2 separate regions of the Homo sapiens genome follow, and region 2 is linked to region 1. The links come from fine-mapping of genetic effects on gene expression. A gene starts in region 1. The other region holds a variant in brackets. All regions are shown on one strand. Distances are from middle to middle. Region 1 holds the start of VIM-AS1 (VIM antisense RNA 1). Region 2 has its middle 48 kb from the start of VIM-AS1.

Region 1 (8,335 bases):
GGGCATGGTGGTGCTTGCCTGTGGTTCCAGCTCTTAGGGGGCTGAGGCAGGAGAATCACTTGAACCTGGGAGGCGGAGGTTGCAGTGTGCCAAGATGTTGCCACTGCACTCCAGCCTGGGCAGTAGAGCAAGACTCTGTCTCATAAATAAATAAGAAAATAAATAAATAAATAAAGGAGGTGATGTGAGTGGTGGGGAGGCTGTGGTGGCAAACACAATATGAGCAAGAAGTCAAAGCCAGCTTTGCATTGGAGCTAGAGGATATTTAGGAATCACACACAGGTATGGGGTTTTGAGAACACAATGCTTTTCTTTGGTTGAAGCCGCACTGATTTGTTTCCTACCTTGGATTTGTACCATTCTTCTGCCTCCTGCAGGTTCTTGGCAGCCACACTTTCATATTGCTGACGTACGTCACGCAGGGCAGCCGTGAGGTCAGGCTTGGAAACATCCACATCGATTTGGACATGCTGTTCCTGAATCTGAGCCTGCAGCTCCTGGATTTCCTGCAAAAAGAACAGACAGACGGTCAGCTCTGCCAACCGTGGGGGCTGCCTTACCCTCATTCATTCCCCGAAAGTCACTCCACTAACCTCTTCGTGGAGTTTCTTCAAAAAGGCAATCTCTTCTTGCAAAGATTCCACTTTGCGTTCAAGGTCAAGACGTGCCAGAGACGCATTGTCAACATCCTATTTTGAACAGAGAAAAGACAGGACATGGAGGATGTAAAAGTGTATGGCTTATCTCATTTATTTGTCTTAGATTAACCATCTGAACCTAGTCTCCTTACTATAGAAAAGCCGTTGACACATTTTATGACCCTGGAATAGGTTTATAAATCATTCAGTGCTATAATATGCTGTGCTTTCTCCTGCTCACTAATATATTTTAATTGTGACTGCTTGTGTTTTACTCAAGGTGGTGATCAGACAATTTTAAAATAAATAAATGTCCACACACATGGTAAACTGCACTCAATCATGACTGAATCCACATTTTACCAGTGATATTTTAAAATTACTTTTTAAGGCTGGTCATGGTGGCTTATGCCTGTAATCCCAGCACTTTGGGAGGCTGAGACGGGTGGATCACTTGAGGTCAGGAGTTCGAGACCAGCCTAGCCAACATGGCGAAACCCCGTCTCTACCAAAAATACAAAAATTAGCTGGGTGTGGTGGCACATGCCTGTAGTCCCAGCTACTTGGGAGGTTGAGGCAGGAGAATTTCTTCAACCCAGGAGGCAGAGGTTGCAGTGAGCCAACATAGTGCCACTGCACTCCAGCCTGGGCAACAGAGTGACACTCTGTCTCAAAAAATAAAGTAATTCATTTAATTTAATTACTTTTTAAATCTAGAAAATCTATGCCACAACATTTTTAAGATTTGTTTTGTAATTTCATGGAATAACATGATGATAGAGGTGGACAAATTTTCACAACTTCATGTACACTTGAGTACATGGAGAACAGAAACTTGTGCTTCAAGAGTTTTAGCTTTTCTTCTCCACTCAAATCTTTTGAAACTTATCCTTAGGCTCCAAAGCAAATATGTAGTCATCTGGCATCCATTGTACAAGGCTAGATTTATATTCAATAACCCAATTCAGGATATGCATGCCAAAGATTCAGTTCAGGAAAAAATGGAAAAGAAATGTAACTCTGAACTGTATTTGCTTGGCTTTCTCTGGTGGATTTTTCTTCTAAAACTCCTTTGACTCATCCTGTAAAGGCATGTCTTTTTCACTTGCCACTGTATCAGTTCAGTTAGCCTGTTTCAGAATGACTGGTCAAGCTTGCAAAGAATGAAACTACATAAAGGATTTTTGCTGATTCAGCCGTCCTTCTATATTTCCATTTAAAAAGCTCAGCATTCCAAATCAGAATATGTAATCTTGCAACTAAGATTTTATTTCCTCTCAAAAGGATGCGTGAGGATTGCTTATCTTGTCAGCAATTATATTTGGAGTTCATAGCCTTACGGTCTTAAACTGTTGAGACTTTTCTATCACCTTAGTGGAAAAATGAATGAAGAGTGGGTGACAAAAAGATCAGACTTGATGAAAACATTGATTTTTACTTGTTAAGCCCTGAAAAATACATAAAAGATATTTTACTAACCTCCAAAGAAAGATCAATGTGGTATTCTATCACATTGAAGAGAATGAGGAATTTTGCTTAATCTCGAAACAGAGGATCTTTTGTATTGATGTTGTTTTATGTTAACTCACTACACTGCAGAAAACATGACAGGTATGATAATCAAAAATGCTCAAGGACTAAAATGAACCACACACATTGCTGTGGTTAAATTAATTTGGTAAATGTATTTCAGTTTCAAAATGTTATACTACACTATTCATCTGAGAGTGCTTTGCAGTTAATCCCAGTAAATATTCCAGGGAATACAACTATAAACTATAATGGGGATCTTCTGGCTTTTGGATTCCAATTTTAAGTTAAAAATTCTGTAAGTCCATCTAATTTTGGTGAAAAAAAAAAAAAACACGCACAAAAACCCTTTAGTTAAAATTCAGTTTTTCAGCCTTGGGTTTATTACTGTTATTATTTTTTATGGCAAGAGTGCTAAAGAACACAAGAACCCAATCAAGAAAGGACTTTTAAAATGTGAGGTATGCTTGTAGCTTTAAAAACTTTTTACATTACCTACTTCTCAAGTCTGGGCCAGATATTAGATAACGGATGTTAGCAAATACTTGTGTCCAATTAGAACCGTGCTTACATCATTACATATTCAGTAAGAATGTAGCCTGTTGCAAAGCTTCCCTGGGAATACAAAGACTCCTATTATTTCTGTCCAGAGCCACCACATTTGCCAGAATGTCTGTATCTACATTCCATAGTGAAGCCCATAGAAACCATTAATACCCCTTAGCCAAGGGGACAGATGGCTCCTTTTCACCCTTATTAGATCACAAAATAGTTGTGCATAGTGATACTTCCATCGAACTTTAATGACACAATAGAATTTGCAAAGAAGAAAAGAAACTTGCTGGCTCCATTCCAGTTGGAAACTAAGTTTTCTTATCTTCCAACACGTTTTCCATTTTAAACTGCAGGGCATAATTGCGCTTTTTGTGGCCTTGTAAAAATTAAGCAACTTGACTTTGGCAAACCACAATCTAAAATTGTAACCGTTCGAAACCAGAAGGTCAATGTGTTGCAAAACTGTGCAACATTTGGGAAACAAAGTAAAAAGTTAAAAGATTTTTCTTTATGTCCCAAGGAACTGCTTAGAAATCATTCAAGGATCGCTTGAACCCGGGAGGCGGAGGATGCAGTGAGCCAAGATCTCGCCACTGCACTCCAGCCTGGGCGACAGAGTAAGACTCCGTCTCAAAAAAAAAAAAAAAATCGCTCAAGGGGTTTTATTAATATTTTTCTAATCATGAGAAGCTCCAACCTGTGGTCTTCCCGCCACTAGAGGGCTTTACGCGCAGCCCTGAAGTTTTGCACTTTTTAGACGTGAGTTAAGCAACTTTTAGAATTGCTCGTGGGTTGTGTTGGGTGGGGTCAGGCGGCTGCGAGTGGGAAGAGAGTCTACAAACCTGTCTGAAAGATTGCAGGGTGTTTTCGGCTTCCTCTCTCTGAAGCATCTCCTCCTGCAATCTGAAACAGTTGCGCATTAACCAAAGGGGAACGAGGAAACCGCCAGGGGCGGGGCGGCCACACCCAAACACCACGTATTCGCTCTGCGCCTCCAGAGCAGCTGCGCCACCTCCGCGCAACTAGCGCCTGCAGCTTTCAGACCTGCTGCCCTCGGCAGGTTTCAGCGGGACTTCGGGCACCGCGCAGAGGGGCAATCACGGTGGCCGCACAGACCTACAGGACAGCCCCGCCATCCCCGCCCCCGAGGGACCATCCCTTTGTCTCGCTCCCTCCACCGCCTTCCCCTCCTTCCTTCTCCCGCCCGGTGATTGGCAGCCTGCCAGAAGGGGCAGGAAACTTTCTGAAAGTTTGGAGGACTGGCTCTCATTGTGCCCAAGGGCCTTCAACTGCACACAAAGTGGTAGTTTTAAGAAATCTGTAACTTGAAACGGAGCGTCCTTGGGCAATGTGTGGGGACAGAGGAGGAAATGCGAACTGCAAGGTCTGGGTTCTGGGCGGGGCTGCGCCACCACAGCCACAGCCCCGCTCTCCGCTGTCTCCCTGGCAGGCCTCCCCCCGGCCACATCCCCAAGGGCGTGGCAGCTCTCGCGGGGGCCGGGGGGGCGTTCCCCTCTCCCTCCAGCCCCCTCCCGAGGCCCAGCTACTTGCATGGGCGCAGCCTTACTTCTCCCGGAGGCGCATGATGTCCTCGGCCAGGTTGTCGCGCTCCACCTCGACGCGGGCTTTGTCGTTGGTTAGCTGGTCCACCTGCCGGCGCAGCTCCCGCATCTCCTCCTCGTAGAGGTCCCCCAGGCGCGACTTGCCTTGGCCCTTGAGCTGCTCGAGCTCGGCCAGCAGGATCTTATTCTGCTGCTCCAGGAAGCGCACCTTGTCGATGTAGTTGGCGAAGCGGTCATTCAGCTCCTGCAGCTCCACCTTCTCGTTGGTGCGGGTGTTCTTGAACTCGGTGTTGATGGCGTCGGCCAGCGAGAAGTCCACCGAGTCCTGCAGGAGCCGCACCCCGGGCACGCTGCTCCGCAGGCGCACGGCAGAGGAGCGCGTGGCATACACGCCGCCCGGGGACGAGGCGTAGAGGCTGCGGCTGGTGCTGGGGCGCAGCGCGCTGCCCAGGCTGTAGGTGCGGGTGGACGTAGTCACGTAGCTCCGGCTGGAGCTCGGCCGGCTCGCGGTGCCCGGGCCGCCGAACATCCTGCGGTAGGAGGACGAGGACACGGACCTGGTGGACATGGCTGCGGAGGGTGGCGATGGCCTGGGCGGCGGCGGTGGCGCGGACTGGCTCCCGGAGAAGAGGCGAACGAGGGCGCGGTGGGTGTGGGTGGTGGGAGCGCGGCTGCGTCTCTGGCGCGGGGACCTCGGAGCGAGAGTGGCAGAGGACTGGACCCCGCCGAGGGCGCTGTTTTTATAACCCCGTTAGGAAAGAGGGTCCCCTCCCACTGCCATCCCAGCCGCGGAGCGCGCCAGCCAATAGGGACCTAGCGAGAAGCGGGGAGGGTGGGCGGGTGGGGTGGGGGCGCCCTCGAGCCTTCCTGCTCCGGGGCCTGGGACTGGGCATGGTCCCGTTACTTCAGCGCTGGGCTGGGACTTTTGGGGGCTTTCCGGATGATAGTCTGAGCTGGGCTCACCCTGGGGTGCTGAAAAAGGCGGGGTCGCGCGGTGAGGGGGGGGTCCGCCTGGGACTGAACCAGAGGGGTCCGGTGGCACCACGCCAAAGGGGCGTGGGAGGAGGTGCGCGGCGGTCTCGGGGCTGCGGTCAGGCGGGGAGACCCGCGGGCAAAGGAGCGGGAAGAGGAAAGAGTAAGGAATCCCTCAGATCTGAAGTCGCGGAGAAAGAAACAAAGAGCGCCTGAGATTGGAACGCGGGGTGGGGGCGCGCACAGCGCAGGAACGCAGGGCTCAGGCCTCGCCGCAGCCTCGCGCGCCGCCCGCTTGGAAAGGGGGGCTGCTCCGGCCCGCGCCTCTGTCCATCGACTTGCCTTGGCGGAGAGATGTTGGGGGGAGGGGAGGTTCTGTCGAGGGACCTAACGGGCTCAGTCCAGCTTCGGACGGCGGGAGTTGCGAGACGGCGGTGGCAGAGGAAAGCCCGAGGGAGAGGGGTGGGGTCGCTTAGTCACCGGCGGTGACTCACCGCGCCCTGCTGTCCCGCCGATTGAGGGCTCCTAGCGGTTTAGGGGAAACCGTTAGACCAGATTGATTCAAGTCTCAGCGGGCTCCGCGCGCGCTGCTAGTTCTCAGTGCTACCAACTTACAGCTGGGCCATCGCCTTGCTGTGTGCGGTCGGGCCCTGTGGGGGACAAGAGCGCCCCTAAGTTTTTAATAACTCGCTAAAGCCTGTCTTTGCTCGAATGTGCGGACTTTTTGTTAGCAAGAAACTTCTGCAGCCTTTGGAGAGGCGCCATACGTGGGCCTCCCAGATCACGATTGCACCGGGAAGGTTTTTCTTGCAGAGTCCCCGCCCCCGTCCCTCTGGTCTCCTCTCGCTCTTCCCCCTCCCCCCATGAAACCACACCCAACTTTTTAAACAAGATCTGAAAATTCTGGGTGAAAGAGGAAACTCGACGTCCGTAGTTTCAAAATAGAACTCAGTGATCAGTGGTTTTTACCCTGGTGGAAGTCATTAAAGGTATAATATGAGCCAGTTAAAGAATTAATTAGGTGTTGCTTAAAAACCCCAATTTGATTAATGAGTTCAAATGAAAGGCAATTATGTAACACAAATGACAGAATCTTTGGCGGCAATAGATTTATGTGTTAATTTTAGGACAGCAATGCACAGTACAGGGTTCACGGTGATTTGTCTGGGAAATGCCATAGGTCCTGTTTTCCAAAAGAATTCGTGCAATTGACCTTGGGGTGAGGGGGATAAAACTGTCTACGCAGCAAAAAACTTCGTGTCCAAGACATGGAGGGAGTGTTCAGATTCGGTCACCTTAACCTTTCTAGGGAAATCACTCAATTCAAGGGCTGTTGTTTCAATATTAGTAACGAGCAGAGCTGAGTACTTACCCGCCAAGGGAGATAAAAGGAGACTATGTAAATCAGTCTTCTCGTGATTTAGTAGCAATTGAAAAGGCACAGGTTTTTTTGAGTATTTAGATTTATGGTGTACTGAAAGGATTAACTGCAGAACCACTGTAAAATTGATTCTGCAGTGGATAGGAGAAAAAAAAGTATTTCTCTCTTTTTTTTTGGTGGCGGCAGGGGGTACTGCAGGTTACTTGGTATTTAAGAAACATAATTTAGAGGTAAATGAAGAGCGTATTCTGACTTCTTTGGACAAGCCTCTTTTAGGCAATATTTTGTTTACCTTATCCCAGTTCGTTCTTGCAAATGGTGCTTGCCAAGGTGGAATTACAGGACTCTCTACTGCCCAGCTCGCCTGCTGGGGCTTTCTTTTATTCTCTCTTTCACTGGGAGGCTGCAGGTCATTCCCCAAGAGCATTCCTGGGGCTGGGTGCCCTGGAGGACAAGCCTATGCTCTGAGTTACATCTTGCTTTCTGAGAGCCCTTTATTCAAGCCACTGCTCAGCAAATGCCACCATTGTGAGTGTGCCTGGAACCCTTAGAATGAGAAAAGTGATCTCCCTATGGGAGGAAGAGAGTGTGGAACTCACTTCTACGTGCAGTGCCGATCCCAGGGCAATGCGACGCTTGCTGACTGACTCACTATGGAAAAGGAGGACAAGGCATTGGCGAGGTGTGGCACTGTGCCCTGCTGGTGCCCATAGCCGATTCCTCAGGGCTGCGGTGATGTCTCCTGGAATGGGCACTGGTCCTCTTCATCATCTCAGGGATAGGTAGCTCCTCCTTCCAACCTGTCCCCATTCTGAAGTCTCTGGGCTGTGATAGGCTGCTCTCTTGTCACAGACATATGTTTGTTTGATGCATATAGAATGTATAAAAGTGTAGGTGTTCTGTAGTCCCAGCACTTTGGGAGGCCAAAGCAGGAGGATTGCTTGAGATCAGGAGTTTGAGACCAGCTTAGGCAACATATATATATGAAACCAAAAAAAGCCAGGCGTGATGGTGCACACCTGTGGTCCCAGCTACTTGGGAGACTAAGGCAGGGGGATTGCTTGAGCCTGGGAAATTGAGGCTGCAGTAGGCTGTGCACACCACTGCACTCCACCCTGTGCAACAGAGTGAGAACCTGTCTCAAAATAAAGTATATGTATGTACTACACACACATATACATACGCACATATACAGCGTTCAATGTGTTTTTCCTATTAGAAAATGCCATTGTTTTTGGTGGGCTGCAAGAGAAGTGAAAGTTGCAGAAACACTTTCATTCATTCATGTAGAATTCATGAGACTTAAGAATTCATTTCATTCTGAGATAAGATATACAGTGCCTCAATCAATGGGTGATAGTTTTCAGTCAGGGAGATCAATGAATCTGAACTCACATCCTTGAGTGAGACAACTCAGCCTGCTCTCTATGCTACTGTGTTCTTAGGTATCTTTTGGGTACACAGACATAGCTTTCCCGGGTTTTGTGTTTATTTTTTAATTGCTATGAAAACCTATCTGAGAAGTATTTTCAAGTGCTGGACTGGGAAGCTGCTTTCAACACAGCATGATGCAAGTTGCATATAAATAAAGACGTGGTGGTATAATTCATAGGCCAGGCATAAACACTACCACATCTAAATTACCAACAGTGATTTTGGAATTTGCAAGCTGTCATGATGTCAGTTGAATTGGGTGA
Region 2 (8,335 bases), 48 kb before region 1:
AGGGCTGCCATGAAGTTATCTGTTATGCCCTGGAGACATCTCCCCCATTGGCTTGGTGATTAACATTTGGCCCCTCGTTACTTATGCAAATTTCTGCAGCTGGCTTGAATTTCTCCCCAGAAAATAGATTTTTCTTTTCTCTTGTATTGTCAGGCTGCAAATTTTCCAAACTTTTATGTTCTGTCACCTCTTGAATGCTTTGCTGTTTAAGAATTTCTTCTGTCAGATACCCTAAGTCATCTCTGTCAAGTTCAAAGTTCCACAGATCTCTAGTGCAGGGGCAAAATGCTGCCAGTCTCTTTGCTAAAGCATAGCGAGGGTCACCTTTATTCCAGTTCCCAACAAGTTCCTCATCTTCATCTGAGACCACCTCAGCCTGGACTTCATTGTTCACATCACTATCAGCATTTTGGTCAAAACCATTTAACAAGTCTTTAGGAAGTTCCAAACTTTCCCACATCTTCCTTTCTTCTTCTGAGCCCTCCAAATTGTTCCAATCTCTGCCTGTTACCCCATTTCCAAAGTTATTCCACATTTTCAGGTAGCTTTCTAGCAGCACTCCACTTCCGGTACCAATTTACACTGCTATGAAGAAATGGGTAATTTATAAAGGAAAGAGGTTTAATCGATTCACAGTTTATTATGGCTGGGGAGGTCTCCGGAGACTTACAATCATGGCAGAAGGCAAAGGAGAAGCAGACACCTTCACAGGGCAGCAGGACGGAATGAGAACAAGCAGGGGAAATGCCAGATGCTGATAAAACCATCAGATCATATGAGACTCACTCATTATCACAAGAACAGCATGGGGGAAACCACCTCTATGATCCAATTACGTCCACTTGGTCCATCCTTGACACATGGGGATTACAATTCAAGATGAGATTTTGAGTGGGGATACAGCCTAACCATATGACTATCTGTCTTCCTATCCATATATCTATCATCCATCAAATCATCTATGATTTATCAGTCTTCCTCTCTATCTCCCTATCTATCATCTATTTATCTTCCTATGTATTTATCTATCTAAACATCTATCTATATCTATGTCTATCCTCTATCTTCCTATCTCTCTAACTATCTATTAAATCATCTATTTATCTCTCTGTTTATCAAATCATCTATTCTCTCTCTCTCTCTGCCATTGGTTCTGTTCCTTGGAGAACCCTGACTAATACAAACACACATTAATTAAAATTAAGACTCAAAAATATGTGAAACAGAGAGGCAAAACCATCTCTGATATCTTGTCACATGACACTATTTAATTTTGGAGACCTGCTTTTCATATATTTCTTTATATCCATACACATATAGAATGATGCATAGATATTGATATTGTTTGGCTCTTCATCCCCACCCAAATCTCATGTTGAATTGTAATCCCCACATGTCAGGGGAGGGGCCTGGTGGAGGTGATTGAATCATGGTGGCAGATTTCTCCCGTGCTGTTCTTGTGATAGTGAGGTGTTCTCACGAGATCTGATGGTTTAAAAGTGTGGCACTTCCCCCCTCAGTCTCTCTCTCTTCCTACCATGTAAGAAGTGCCTTTCTTCCCCTTCACCTTCCACCATGATTGTGTTTCCTGAGGCCTCCCCAGCAATATGGAACTGTGAGTCAGCTAAACCTCTTTTTTTATAAATTACCCAGTCTCAGAGAGTTTTTTTTACAGCAATGTGAAAATGGGCTAACAGAGATACCATACATATTTTTTAATCTTGGGTCTCTCTCTCTCTCTCTTTCCTTCCCAAACATTGGCATTACTACCATCTCTCTCCACCACCAGAAGAAGCAGGGTACCTTGTGTACCAAGCTACTGAGCATCCTTCTGGACCTTCCTTCATGCTTTTGTACAAGCATAAACACAGACACAATGTGATTTAACTTTTTTTTTTACTAAAATGAAATCATATTATGGAAATTCCTCCATATCTTAGCTTTCTCACTTAATAATACATTGAAAAATTCTTCTGATTTGATCTATTTAGATCTAACTCATTTTAAAATTTTATTTTATAAATTTATTTAAAGTTTTTTAAATTCTTAGTAGGGGTGGGATCTCACTATGTTGCCTGGGCTGCTCTTGAACTCCTGGCCTTAATTATCTTCCTGCCTCAACCTCCCAAAGTGCTGGGATTACAGGCATGAGCCACCATGCCTGGCCATAACTCATTTTTAATAGCTGAACAATTGTACATGGTATGGAGGTATTAATATGTTTTCAGCCATTTTCCTATTGATTGGCATTTTCTTTTCTAAAAATCTCTACAATATTGCTGTAAAATCTCCCTGATCATATATTCCTATAGATTGTTGTGTTTATTTTATTTCCATGGGATGGATCCCTAGAACTTGCTAAAACAAATTACATACACACACACACACACACAACTTGAATTTTAATGGATATTATTGGATTGTTTCTCAATAGGTTGTGACAATTCATACTTCCACCACCAAATATAAGAGAATCTTTTTTTCCTGTGGGCCTCCAGCCATAAGCATCTGTAATTCCCCCTTGTAATTGCCAATATTATGGGGCACAATGATGTCTATTGTTTTAATGTGCATTTCCTTGCCTACCAGGGCAATTAACATATTTTTGCCCTAGTAGTTGTTGCAGATACTATCAGCGTTCTGTCAGGTCCTCTCACTCTTACCTTTTCTGTGAATGCCTGCTGGACTTCCAGCTGCCAACACCTGCATCTCCTTGCTAGAGGGCTTTCCTCAGCTGTGACAATATCTTATACTGCTGTCTTTCTTAATTGTAGATCTTCCATTATCTTGTCCATCCCTTCTATGGTAATTTGTTTATTCATGGTTGTTCCTTCCTCTGGGATCAATAGTGGCAGCTTATATTTTGCTAAAAAAATACACATTTCCTCCAGGTTTTGACCTTTATTTCTACGCATTGTCCTAGGATATTCTTAAAACTATTTTAATGCCTTCCTTATCTACGGTCATGTTTTCTTTCTCATTCCTAAGCTTGTATATTTCTGTCCTCTTTAATTCTTGATTAAACTCATGAAAGTTTGTCTATTTTATTGGTCCTTTGGAAGAACTGGCTTTGGGATATATTTAACCTATTATTACATTTTATTTTTTTGTTATCTTAATTCCTTCTTGTGCTACTTTTTGTTTTTTTATTTCTAATTTCTTAAACCAAGCATTGAATTTTTAAAAAAATTTATTGTTTCTTCTATAATCGTGGAGACATTTGTGCAGAAGGTGCTAACTGCAGGTCTGGCTGCTAAACTCCACATGTTCCCAAAAAAGGCCTGCCTTTACGATCAGCCCTAGCTGGCTCCTGGGAGCTGAGCTCTGAGATGTTGAAATATTCTGCAGGATCAGAGAGTTTTGCATGACTGAGGCCTGGGGCTACCTGGTACTAGTTTAGTCAGATTGTTTATGCTAACAATGTGATTTATGGTGATGCTTATTTTTGCTATTTTTGCTCTGAGAGGCTGAGGGCAATCATGCATGTACTACGTCTATGTTACTGACTCTGCCAATAAAAACCGTGGACACCAAGCCTCAGGTGAGTTTCCCTGGCTGGCAATATTTTGCATGTATAGTCACACATTCTTGCTGGGAGAATTAAATGCACCTGTGTTTCTCTACTGGGAGAGGACATCTGGAAGTTGGCACTTGGTTTCTCCTGGACTTTGCTCCATGACCCTTGGCATTTTGCTGATTTTAATCTGCATCTTTCCCTGCAATAAAGTGTAATTGTGAGCACAACGGCTTTTATGACTCCTCTGAGTCCTACTAGTATATTGACAAGCCTGAGGGTGGTCTTGGGGACCCCCAACACAGCTTTCAAGGTTGTAATCTCCCAATGAGTATAGTTGTCATTGTGTACCAGATGCTTTTATTATTATTATTATTTGAGATAAATTCCTTCCTCTGTTGCCCAGGCTAGAGTACAGTGGCGTGGTCTTGGCTCACTGCAGCCTCCACCTCCTGGGTTCAAGCGATTCTCCT[A/G]CCTCAGCCTCCCAAGTAGCTGAGATTACAGGTGCGCACCATCACACCCAGCTAATTTTTGTATTTTTAGTGGAGATGGGTTTTCACCATGTTGGCCAGGCTGGTCTCAAACTCCTGACCTCAAGTGATCTGCCTGCCTCGACCTCCCAAAGTGCTGGGATTACAGGCAGGAGCCACCATGCCCGGCCTGTGTGCCAGAGGTTTTAGAATGTAGTGGCCTTCCTTTCACTGGTCTACCTATAGTTGATGATTTTATTTTGACTTTTCTCTTCTATCAAAGATTTAAGTAGAAGTGGATTTATTATTTTCTGAGTAATAGAGGCATAGTTTTATTTTTTGCTTAACTGTATCAGATTATGATCAAGGAATGTGGTCTCTTAAAATTTCTTCTTTTGAAAATGTGTTAGTTTTTTTCTTTGTTTGAACAATTAGCTTCATAATTAAATACTGTTTCTTGACTATTACATGAAAGCAAGATAGAATTCCTATATACTTCAGATACTCTATTTCCCTATTGCTTTTATTCATACACCAGAAAGAAGATAAATTTAGACTACTTTTAATTTTACTTAACTCACTCCCATCCCCTCAAGGCCTAGCTTTTCCTAAATTTATAACTTTTAGTACAAGGCTGTTGTTAGTATTTCACTCACAGTGCATGGAAGAAAGAGGCTTTGTACTCTATATGGATCAGATCTGTCAGAGGCAGCTTAAATCACTTCTATACTGTTGGGAATAGAACTGGTAAGGGAAGAAAAAGCTCTCTAAAAAATAGGAGAACAGGCACAGTGTGGTGGATTCATTATCACAAGGCCAGAAAGTTCACATCCTGAGTGGTAGGTTACTTATCACAAAACTGATGAGTTAATTTACAGCTGAAGTGAAGAAAATCAATTTCCCATAACAAACGTTTTCAAGCTTTGTGGTTAAACCATTATATTTACAGGCCTTGTTGTCAAACACTTACATTCCTCAGGAATTCCTGTTGTTGTTTTTTTCTTATAACTATCAGTAAATTTAGGGACAGTACCTCTAACTGAGCTAGCACACGGTTTGTTCTCCCAGACCATGAATGCTTTTAGTTTCTAGCACTGTTTGTTTGTTTAGAGTGCTCTCGTGGCCACCAGGAAATAAATATTCTTTATCTTTTTTTTGTTATCTTGCTAATGTCAGAAGTAAGAGCTCAGGGTCACAAAGAAAATGAGCAGTAAAACAAAGAATTTCTCAGCAAGGTAAATTTACTTCCGCAGAAGGGTGCTGCTCATAAACCTGGCTGTCACGAGAGCATGCGGAGCAAAGAAGAGTGGGGGTTTTCTTCCTAATGCAGATTCTGCCTCTGTGTCTTTCCCCCCATTGCCTGGGCTTGGACCGCACAATGTAAACTGGTCTCAATTGGGTAAACATTTAAACTTTCTTAGTTAAGGTAGGTGTGTGATAGAGGAGAGAGGGGGAGAAGGAAGGGGTCACCTACAGGGCACTAGAAAGCTAACCTATTCCCACATAAGGAAAGGAATGTGGACTGGGGCTGTGGCATGTCTAAGTATGTTTAGACAGGTTAAGGCGCAGCAAAAGCGGGGGCAGGGGGTGGGTACTTGGAATGAGAGAATAACGAACAGGAGAACTGGGCATGCTGTTTGCAGAGGAACCTAGCCGTATCTAACACTAAGAAAGGCAGTATTAGCACAGCCCTTAAGGACTTAAGTCACCAAATCTAGTTTCCTCACAAGGCTTCTCATCAAATAAAATGGCAAATTAGATTTCTATCACTAAGATCAGCCAAAAAAATTAAATGCATAATTTCTAATTTTTATATTCTACCATTCTCTGTTTAGGCTTAACAATGTATACATTTTTTGAAATGTTCTTTATTGGCCACTATTTAATCTTCTTTTCCCCTTTCTCTGTCCTCTGATATCTGAGATATTTTGTTGTTTGGCTAAAAGTTTTTTTCTTGAATATTCTCCTGGGATGTTCACAGATTATATAGTTTTGGAATTCTGGCATATTTATAAATGTCTTTGTTTTCCTTGATGGCTGAATGATATCTTAGATGGAAACACATTTCCTGGATTTTAGTCTGTGGGTGTCCAAACTCTTCCATGTTCATTCCACAGATAAATGTAATGCTAATCTTATATGTGTATGTATACATTACTAAATTTTATGTCTAGAATGTAAAAATTTATTCTTCATTTTGGAATTCAGCAATTTTGATGAAATGCATAGAGACGCCCCAGAACTCTCAATTATTGAATTTTAGACTCAGTTGAGGTAATAGGCAGAATAGTGGTCTTCCAAAGATGTCTAATCCCAAGAATTTGTGAATATGTTCTATTACAAGGGGGAATTAAGATTGTGGATGGAATTAAGGTTGCTAATCAGATGACCTTGAGATGGGGAGGTTATCCTCGATTATCTAGGTGTGGGAGGCAGGAGGGTCAGAGTCCTGTAGAGATTTGAAGAGGCTCCTTTGCTGGCTTTGAACATGGAGGAAGAGGCCATGAGCCAAGGAATGTAGGTGGCCTGGAAAAGGTAAGGACATGGAGTTTTTCCCTAAAGCCTCTTCAAAAAACACAACCCCACCAACAATTTTCTTTTAGTCCAGTGAGACCTATTTTGAACTTCTGACCTCCAGAACTGTAAGATAATAGATTCGTGCTGTTTTTAAGCTGCTAAATGCATGGTCATTTGTAACAGCAGTAATAGAAATCTCATACAGTTGATCTGGCATCAAGAGGGAAACAAATCCTGCCTAAGCTACTTCCTGTGGGCCTGGGTAGAGGCTTTGCTGACATCCTCCAGGTCTGCTAACCGCTTGCAGGTGCCAAACTGCAGAGAAACAGCTGGAAATTGGAGTCCAGAGAAAAGGACAGGAGGAAAGCACTCTGGAGTCCTCTCTGCAAAATCCTCATTACTTAAGCTTTTCAACCTTCTCTCCTGCCGTTCCCTAGCACCGTATCTTCATGTTAGCCCTGAGCTTCATTTCTCTAGTAAAACCAGGCTACGTACTGTTTTTCCATGCCATTTGTTTGAGTTGAAATATTCTATTGTGTAACAAATGTAGAGGTTGCAGGCAAGAGAGAGGGAAAAAAAAAAACACCTAGATCTGAAAAACAAACAAAACCATTGTCAGGTATTGCTCTTGTTGTCTGGGAGATAAAACCAGAGTTATGGGTCACAGAGATTTTGACATTCCCTGAACTGTGTAGGGTAAGAGAGCCTCTAACTACAGTAAGCAAATAAATTAGTGAGAATAATTAGCATGACTTACAGTAAGACCAGGGTTAGGCTAAAGAAAATAACTGACAAAATAGAGTTAAAGCCATGCCTGAGACTTTCAGTGAGGGAATTAAAAAGCAACAGATCTAATTAAGTAGTCTGGTACACCATTTGGAATTTGGAATTTGCTTGTTAATTAGAAGCCTTGCTCTATTTGGCAATAATTATTGCTGAGTGGAAAACGTATACATGCAGCAGTACTCTTTTTAATGAGGCAATGCACTCTCAAACACACTTCTCTGTCAAAAGTACATATTACCGCAGGCAAAAATAAGATAAAAGGCACAGGAATGTTTCCAGATATCAGACAGCAGTTTAAGAAATGTAAGTAAAATAACATCAAATGTTCAAGGAAAAATAAGCTACCTCGGATTTTGTTTGGAGGGGAGAGGATGGTGAATTGCAGAGGAGAGAAACCCACCAAGGATGGGCTAACACTGGATGATGAAGGGAGATGAGGGTTCTGTCTGAGTCCAAGAGTGGGCGAGAGGTGGTAAGAACAGGGTTGGGGAACTACACAGCCCCTGAGCCCAATCAGCCTGCTCATCATCGCAAATAAAGTTTTATTGGAACATAACTAGCACCCATTGGTTGAGTCATCATCATCTACAGCTGCTTTTGTATTACGGCAGCAGGGCTGAATAGTTGCGGCAAAGACCATATGGCCCCCAAGGTTGAAAATATTTACAGCCTCACCCTTTACAAAAGTAGTTTGCTGAGCCTTGGTTAGAGGAAGGTCTCTGGTCATAGCTCTCCATAGAAGCACTGAGATTAGTTGTGAGGTACATTGGGATTCAGTGGTAACTAATAATAATTTGATGGCCCAAGTTGACAAATGATTCACTTTTTAAAAATTAAAATAGAGCGGATGCAAAGTTATCCCCATGAAGAACTCTCGTATACTTTCCTTGGGAAAGAAAGAGATAATAGGCCAGGTGCGGTGGCTCATGCCTGTAATCCCAGCATTTTGGGAGTCCAAGGCAGGTGGATTGCTTGAGACTGGAGCTCAAGACCAACTAGATAACATAGTAGGACCTCCCCCCATCGCTACAAAAAATGTAAAAATGAG

Evidence for each region.
Region 2: its variant is fine-mapped to the expression of VIM-AS1 in whole blood (TOPMed, PIP above 0.99).

What each region holds. Positions count from the first base shown.
Region 1 is chr10:17,225,941-17,234,275 of GRCh38, reverse strand. It overlaps VIM-AS1 (VIM antisense RNA 1), which reads left to right and starts at 4,291. Exons shown (of 3, transcript NR_108061.1): 1 at 4,291-4,931. It overlaps VIM (vimentin), which reads right to left and starts at 6,035. Exons shown (of 10, transcript NM_003380.5): 1 at 5,752-6,035; 2 at 4,291-5,000; 3 at 3,566-3,626; 4 at 594-689; 5 at 345-506. The coding sequence starts at 4,853. RefSeq lists silencers at 4,127-4,306, 7,342-7,556 and an enhancer at 4,617-4,706.
Region 2 is chr10:17,274,138-17,282,472 of GRCh38, reverse strand. No RefSeq gene overlaps it. Among named protein-coding and RNA genes, the nearest start is that of VIM-AS1, 48 kb to the right of the region's middle. The variant A/G (reference allele first, on the strand shown) is at 3,988.